2 separate regions of the Homo sapiens genome follow, and region 1 is linked to region 2. The links come from fine-mapping of genetic effects on gene expression. A gene starts in region 2. The other region holds a variant in brackets. All regions are shown on one strand. Distances are from middle to middle.

What was found.
Region 1: its variant is fine-mapped to the expression of LINC00239 in Th1 cells (Schmiedel 2018, PIP 0.95).

What each region holds. Positions count from the first base shown.
Region 1 is chr14:100,914,361-100,918,760 of GRCh38, forward strand. All of the region lies in intron 9 of MEG8 (maternally expressed 8, small nucleolar RNA host gene), which reads left to right. Among named protein-coding and RNA genes, the nearest start is that of MIR370, 5.4 kb to the left of the region's middle. The variant T/TC (reference allele first, on the strand shown) is at 2,357.
Region 2 is chr14:101,728,445-101,732,844 of GRCh38, forward strand. LINC00239 (long intergenic non-protein coding RNA 239) reads left to right here and starts at 1,993. Exons shown (of 4, transcript NR_026774.1): 1 at 1,993-2,043; 2 at 2,913-3,024; 3 at 3,344-3,532; 4 at 3,792-4,081. It overlaps LINC02320 (long intergenic non-protein coding RNA 2320), which reads right to left and starts at 2,862. Exons shown (of 6, transcript NR_184269.1): 1 at 2,610-2,862. RefSeq lists enhancers at 2,428-3,627, 2,670-2,729, 3,460-3,559.

The sequences.
Region 1 (4,400 bases), 810 kb before region 2:
AGTTGCTGTTTGTTGCACAGAATGGACAAATCATAGTTTATATAGTCATGCAGTATTTATGAGAATGTTGACTCTTACTTGGGTAGATAAGGTACTTAAAGAAAATGTAATTAATAGTTGATGTTGTTAAATCTTGGCTGGAGAGTTGTTTAAGGGTGTTCATAAATGAGTAAATGAATGAATGAACAAACACATGAATAAAACAAGAGAGGGCAAACATGGGACAAAGGTGATCATATCTCATTGTCGTAAATTCTTTTTATGTAGCTTCAGCATCCGTTTTCAACCTAAGTTTAACTTTCTCATTCCAGAAGCAGGCTTAGTCACCCTTGACACAGTTTGCAGTTATCCACCTCCTCCAAGTTCTTAATATGTTAGATCCAGATAACTGCCTTGTACAGCCACCTCCAGGATACTGCCTCCCTAAAAAACAGCTAGATACACTGACCCCACAGCCTATGTGGACCACACAGATATAGTGGCTTGCTCTAAATGCACCAGTGAGAACTCTCTGCAGGAAACCTGCTTGGGAAATGCCATAGCCTGCAATACAGGCTTTCCCCTTCCCGCTGGCCCTGTGAGGCATGCAGGATCTGTAAGTAATAAACTGCTTCTGTTGTTTCATTTCATGTGTTTTGTTGAGTTGCTTCCTCTGTGTCTCACCTGACCAACACACTTGAATTGAACTTCTTTCCTGGTCAGGGATCTCCTAGAGAATGGCTATCTTGGCAGGAATAGACTAGATGTAGGTCAGACAAGAACCACAGGGGTACTGCCAGTGTAAATGAGTTTCCTATGAGAGGGACACCTGGTAATGGATAGGATGCTTAGGCATTAGACTGTCTGCTGGGATAAAGACGTATCCCATAAAAGATACGCTGTAAACACCCATGACCACCTCTCCTGCATCCCCATCAGGCAGAGCTAGAATTTATATTCACTCTCTTGAGACAGACCTCAAGACCATGTTAGAAGAAAGTACAACACTCATCATCCTAGAATTATGATTATTCCAATTCAGTTCATCCAAGGTCCCTTTAAAAATGCATTGGTTAAAGAGTCAGTTAATATTCTTTTTTTTGGCATGGTGGCATGTTGGATGTTGATTTTAGTACTAAAAATAAATAAATAATTACCTAAGTGTGTAAAATAAACAAAAGGCCAAAACATGGACTGGTGATGAGAATGGTCCAAGAATGAAAGCATTATAGTTAATTAAATTCTGACTGCCACACAAATAACCTACCCTGTTTCACTTCCTTTACCAGCTGTTTTGTATTTCATTTTGTACATGAACATAGTTTATTTACACGTTTGCCCATAAATAGAAATCTGGGCTATTTACTCTGACCAAGGAGCACACAAAGAGATGAAAGATGACGTCAGTGTTCTATTAGTGGAGTAACAGATTGGATTTATGATTGCTCATTGCAACTTCTTTAGAAATGATCAAATCAAATAAAAGAGTGTCAGCATAAACCAATGATGATGTTTCATGAAGCAGAGATCATGATTAATCCAATTAGGTTCATTAGAAAAAGTTCTAGAATATAACCTAAGAGTATTTTCTAGTATTGCCCAATGGAACTTTCTTTCTTTTTTTTTTTTTTTGCCTTGAGACAGGTCTCACTCTGTTGCCCAGGCTAGACCTCCCTGTGCTCAGGTGATCCTCCCACCTCAGCCTCCTGAGTAGCTAGGACTACAGGTGTGCACCACCATACCCAGCTAATTTTTGTATTTTTTGTGGAGACAGGGTTTCTCCATGTTGCCCAGGCTGGTCTTGAACTCCTAGGCTCAAGCAGTTCACCGGCCTTGGCTCCCAAACAGCTGGTTACAGGTGCAAGCCACCATACCCGTCCGCAGTAGAACTTTCTGCAGTGATGGAAATGTTCTGTAATCTGTTCTGTACAGTATGGTAGCTACTAGTCCATGTGATTATTGAGTCCTTGAAATGTGGCTGGCGTTCATGAGTAACTGAATTTTTAATATTACTTAATTTTTATTAATTTAAATTTAAATAGTCACATGTGGCTACTGGCCCATGCAAGTCTGATATCCAGTGGGGCAGTCAAATTTTAAAGCTACTACATTAGTCAGTTGTGTTAGGTGGTTGGTTCATGGCAGTTTTTTGAATATTAAATATGAATACATAAATACAAAAGTTAAATAAAAGCCTAAGCATGGACCAGTGATGAAAGTGTGTCATGAACCAAATATTATATCCATACATTTCTCAACAGATGAAGTCCATTATGTAAAGGTTTCTGTTTCTCCAGTTATGGTTAAGGATGAAAAGATTATCTATCTATCTATCTATCTATCTATCTATCTATCTATCTATTCATCTATCTATCTA[T/TC]TATCTATCTATCTATCTATCTATCTATCTTTCTATCTATCTACCTACCCACCTATCTATTATATATCTATCTATCTCTATAATATACTACTGTTTTTCTTGGTTTTGATGGTAGATTCGTGGTGTTTTACTTGATTATGTTATAAAAATCAATAAGTGAATACATTTTTAAAATTCAAAGACCTTAAATAAATAGGTTATCTGTCTTCTATATGGTAAATATTCTATAGACACGAAGGTCACAAGAACCACTCCCACTTACAAAAAGAATAGGAGGCACTGAGCAGTGCCACCCCACGGCAACTCCGTAGTCCTGCTGGGCAGATGATGTGGGCTCTCCTTACCTGGGCCTGTCACTCATATAAGTGGGGACACATAGAGAGGGGTTTGTAATGGTCATCATTCTCATTTTTATTTTAGGTGATTCACTCCATGGTGTTCATTAAGTTAATAATTAAAATAATCAATTGATTAAGTCAATTAAGAATGAAGTGTTAATTGTGGGTCAGTGGTGAGAAAGAGGGCCAGCCATGGACCAATGTTGAGAATGTGGCACAAGCCAAGGATTATGGTCAATCCAGTATATTAAAATTTTAATATTTCTTTAAAAAGTTTAAATCTAGTCTCTTTCACACCTTTTCACACCTGCTTTCTCTTCTACAGAGTGAGTGCACCGCAGGTGATCAGCTATTCTGTAATGATGAGGGCCGGGCTGCTTTCTCTGTGGGCAAGGAGCATGGAGGCTGATGACAGGACAGTCAGGGTCCTTGTTCTTGGTTTGGATGATTTGCTCATGGATGTTGACTGTATTATTTAAAAGAAATAAATAGCTCTACATATTAAAATATTGCAGAACATGCATGGACCAATGATGAGAATGTTATATGAATCAGTGTTCATGATTAATCCAATTCAACACCACTTCTATTAAGAGTACAGTCAGGCTATTTTATTTGTGCTGCTGGCAGTTTAATATTCATATACATTTTACATCACTGTTGATTTAAACAGTCCTCCATTGATATACACCTATGCCATTAACTGCTTAAGAGGGTATCACAAAGGAAGATTGAAAGTAATTATCAGTATTCTATTGGGCAAGAAGATGGTGGATTTATAGTAGCTCATTGTGTCATCTTTGAAATATAGACAAATTAAAAGAAAGAGGGCTAAGGATGGGCCAGTGATAACTGTGGCATTGCTATGTATGAAGAATGTTGATTGATCCATTGATCCATGTGTGTCATACTGAGATGCGTTATAGGAAGAGATCTAGTGTATTATCTCTGTGGGAAATTAGATTATAGACATGCACAGTCTAGTATCATCAGTGCTAGCCACTGGAGCTACTGTGCACTTGGAATGTGACTAGTCTAATCGACATGTGATCTACATGGAAAAATACACACCGAGTTTAGAAGCCTCAATATGAAAAAGGTAAAATATTTCTAGAATTATTTATATTTATTAAATGATAGTATTTTAGATATTGGGCTAAATAAAATACACAATTACAGTTGATTTCATCTTTTTCTTTTTACTTTTTAAATATTGTAGCTTCTAGAAAATTTACAAGTATTCGTGTAGGTGGCATTATATTTTTTATTGCTCAGCACTGCTATAATCCAATGAGAGGAATATTCAATTTTATGTTTTTCTAATCCATGGGTACTGATTGTATTATTATTGGCTAATCAGTGATGAATCAATGACAAGTGAATAAATGAATGAGAAAAAAATGGGAACAGCACATGCTAAACATTAAAGTGTATACTGCTGAAACAAGGATTATTTTCCTTTTTTTTTTTTTTTTTTGAGACAGAGTCTCACTCTGTCACCCAGGCTGGAGTGCAGTGGCGCAGTCACAACTCACCACAGCCTCGACCTCTAGGCTTAAGCAATCCTCCTGCCTCAGCTTCCCTAGTAGCTGGGACCACAGGCTCATGTCACCACACCTGGCTAATTTTTTTGTATTTTTTGTAGAGATGAGGTTTCACCATGTTGCCTAGGCTGGTCTCAAATTCCTGGGCTCAAGTGATCCACC
Region 2 (4,400 bases):
TATAGCAAGACTCTTTGGAAGTATCCATCTGGGCCAGAGTGCAGTGGCATACTCACAGCTCACTGCAGCCTCGATCTCCTGAGCCCAAGCAATTCTCGCACCTCAGCCTCTTAGTAGCTGGGACTACAGGTGTGCACCACCACTCCCCGCTAATTTGTAAAAATTTTTTGTAGGCCGGGCGCAATGTCTCATCCCTGTAATTGCAGCACTTTGGGAGGCCGAGGTGGGCGGATCACCTGAGGTCAGGAGTTGGAGACCAGCCTGGCCAACATGGTGAAACCTTGTCTCTAGTAAAATACAAAAAATTAGCCAGGTGTGTTGGCGGGCACCTGTAATCCCAGCTACTCAGGAGGCTGAATGAAGAGAATTGCTTGAACCTGGGAGGTGGAGGTTGCAGTGAGCTGAGGTTGCACCACTGCACTCCACCCTGGGCTACAGAGCGAGACTCTGTCAAAAAAAAAAAAAATTAAAAAAAAAATTTGTAGAGACAGAGTCTTGCTATGTTTCCCAGGTTGCTCTGGAACTCTTGGCCTCAAGCAATCCCTACCTCAACTTCCCAAAGTGCTGAGCTTATAGGTGTGAGCCCCTGCACCCAGCTGGAAGTATCTATTCTTATTATCTTCAATTTTTCTCCTCCCATTTTCTCTTGAACCTTTTCAATCAGTATTTGCCTCCTACCACCACATTGAAGCCCTCCAGTGGCTTCCCTATTTCATTTGGGATAAAATCCAAAGTCTTGGCCAGGTGCGGTGGCTCATGCCTGTAATCCCAACACTTTGGGAGGCCAAGGTGGGCAGATCACTTAAGCTCAGGAGTTCAAGACCAGCCTGGGCAACATGGTGAAACCCCATCTCTACAAAAAGTACAAAAATTAGCCATGTGTAGGGGCGCATGGCTGTAATCCCAACTACTTGAGGTGCTGAGGCAGGAGGATTGCGTGAACTTGGGAGGTCGAGGCTGTAGTGAGCCAAGATCATGCCACTGCACTCCAGCATGGGTGACAGAGCGAGACCTTGTCTCAAAAAAGAAAAATAAAGCCAGAGTCTTCGCAGTGCCCACAAGACCCTACGTGACCTGATCTCCCATGACTCATTGCTCCTCGACAGCCACCACTCCGTTCCATGGAGTAGCCCAGGCCAACTGCTCTGCAGCCAAACTCAGGGAAACTTGGAGAACATGTGTGGACCAGAGGACCCCTTCCTCCTGGCTACCAAAAGAACCCCCAAATCCTGCAGCCCACCAGCTGTGTGCCCAGACACAATCTGGAGTAGAGGAGTAGACAGTGGCAGCCATCAGAAGCCCCACTGGCCAAACACTTCAGCCTCAGAATGCTGAGCTGCTCAAAGAACTGGTTAAATGTTTGTATTAGACCAAGGTTACTAGAATGGATGTTTCTCCCCATTGTATTACCCAGCAGAGAGTACCTTTCAAGAAAGATCAGATTAATTAAGTAGGAAAATGAAGACACTCTATTTTCTTTGCACATCTGATGTATTGTGAGTGATTTTGTGACCCTGCTACGTGCACGCATATGCACAGAAAAAAAATATCTTAGAATGTAGACCAAAATATTAACAGTGGTTATGGATGAGTGATGGATGAGTGAACTAACTATAGATTTGGAAGGATATTGTCTGTTTTAAAAGAAAATGAACACTTTCACTCCCAAACAAGACGGAATGTAGAGACTGGATTTCCTCTCCTGCCTGAAAAAGTCAAAATAAATTGGACCAAATATATAAAACAAGAGTTCTCAAGACACTGGATGATATGGTTTTGCTATGTCCCCACCCAAATCTCATCTTGAATTGTAGCTCCCATAATTCCCATGTGTTGTGGGAGGGACCTGGTGGGAGATATTTGAATCATGGGGGTGGTTTCCCCCATACTGTTCTCGTGGTAGTGAACAAGTCTCACGAGATCTGATGGTTTTATAAGGGGTTTCCCTCTCCACTTGGTTCCATTCTCTCTTGTCCACCACCATATAAGATGTGCCTTTCACCTTCTGCCATGATTGTAAGGCTTCCCCAGGCCCGTGGAACTGTGAGTCCATTAAACCTATTAAACCTGTTTTTCCTTATAATTTACCCAGTCTCGGGTATGTCTTTATCAGCAGCATGAGGACAGACTAATACACTGGATATCAGGTAACTAGGCACAATGATTTCTGAGAATGTGGAAAATAAAGTGAGCCTGCAATTAACCCAGCTTCCTTTCTTGAGAGGGTTTCCAAGCTACAGTATGGACAAGGGTACCCAGGTGGGGCCTGGCAGGCTCTTCGAGTTGGGAAGACAGAGCTGAGAGTCCAGGGAGACTCTGGTCACAGGTAGGGGCAGGGGGGTGATGCTGAGAGCCCCTGGGGCATGCCTGCCCTCTACAAAGCTCGTGGTTGAATGCAGGGAGGTGGTCTGGGGGTGGACTTGGGCAATGGGGAGGCTGCATGGGTTAGAGCCAAGCTCTCCCCTCTTCCAGTCTGTCTGGGCCTCTGCAGCTCCCGGTAACTTTGCACTGATTCCAGAGACAGTGATTGCTCAGGTACCCAGGTCTGGGTGTAATTAAAAAAAAAACAAAACAACAACAACAACAACAACAACAACAAAAAACCAAACCTGGCTCTTGGTGCTTTCAGAGATGGCTCAGAGCAGGAATTCTCTAGCTTTGGGGTGCATCCTCAGAGGTGGGGGGGGGCTTGCTGAAAAGACAGGTGTATGGTCCCACCTCAGGCCTGCTGAACAGAAGCTCTGGAGCAGGCTCAGGAGTTTCTTTTCTAACAGGCTCCCCGAGAGATCCTAGCAAATGTTTGCACAACACTCACTTGGAAGCTATGTGACCAAAACCATGATCACAGGGTTGTCCCTGAACACGGTGGGGAAATAACCTCTCCCTTAAATCTCCCCTGCGTGGTGACTTAGGGGAGGAGCCGGAAGAGAGCAGTGCTTCACAATAAAAGGAAGAATTGCTTGAACGGAGGCGTTTCAGGCATGAGTCACAGGCCGGGTGTGGAAGAGGAAAGTGTGAAGCAAGGTAGGCTTCCCAGCACCCCTCCATGCACAGCAGGGGCTGGCCAGCCTCAGCCAGGCCAGATGGAGCCCTGGAGGGTGGGGCTGGCTGCCCAGCTAGAGTGTCTCCTTTTACTTCCAGCAGGAAAAAAAGGCCTCCTGTCAATAGCAGAATCATCTACGTTTTCCCTGCCTTCCTCACTTAAATGCTTTCGAGGAGTGGGAGGAAGAAATTGGAGGCTGGAATGAATACCCTTTGCCCTCCTCTGAAAGCAGCCTGGGAGGGGTGACGGGGTGTAGGAGCAGAGACTTCAAGTGGCCCCCACCTGCCAAACCATTCTCAGGGACAGGTACCAGCTGGGATGTTGGCAGCAGCCGCTCCCCTGCAAGGAGAACCTCCCACTTCCTGTCCCGCACACCTGCCTCATTGGAAAGTGACGCACCCACTGTTTGGCCTCGGCAGCCTGATGTTTCTCATCACACAGGAAGACGGTCATGCTACAGGAAGACCTCGGACTTTGCATCCAGCAGATGTGAGTTCAAATTCCAGCTTTGTAATTTGCAAGCTCAGAGGTGGATTTGCTGGGAAGCTAAACAAGCTTACCTGCAGAGCCCCCAGCTTGCATGGGCCCCTCCCAAGACCTTAACCTCATTTTGTATTCATAATTTTGTAGTCTTTTCCCTTCAAAAGGCAGCCCAAATTTAAAAGCATTAAGCCCCACAAGACCTGAGTCCACCTAGGAGGTGGGAGATATCCCTTGCAGCATGAGAATAATAATTACCACCTCGTAGGGTTGTTCTAGAGATTGTCAGACCGAGACCACGCCACACACCCAGAAGGCACCCAAGTCACAGAGCCTGATATTGTTCCTGGAGCGCCATTGCATCATCCTTGACCACAAGATCTGCGTCATTGGATTTGTCTCAAAAACTTGGGACTCTGGAGATAAAACCTCATTGCAAGGCTACCTTTGCCACTGTATCTTAGCAGCTTTTGAAGCAAAGCATTTCAATATTTAGACACTGTGTTTCTAATGGGTACTGGGATCAAAATAATAAAAACTCAGTCTGCAAAGGGAGAAGAATAGAAACCAGCAGATTTATTATTTCACAGAATGTTCCTCTCCTCTCAGGTAAACATGCCTAATAATATCTGCTTAACTAATGAGCACCCGCATTGTCAGTGGGGCCTTGACTCTGACGACGTAATGCATTTCTGTGCCATTGCACCCCCCACCCATCTCGGAGAGCATCTGAAAATTAAGTGGGGCAGATGTAATTATGCATCTAATATGCAAGGTACATGTGCATGTAGAAGTGTGCATTGTGTAAACAACTGTATCAAATCAACTGCATGTATCTGCTTGGCTCACGTCCTACAAGCACAATTTTCATTTTATT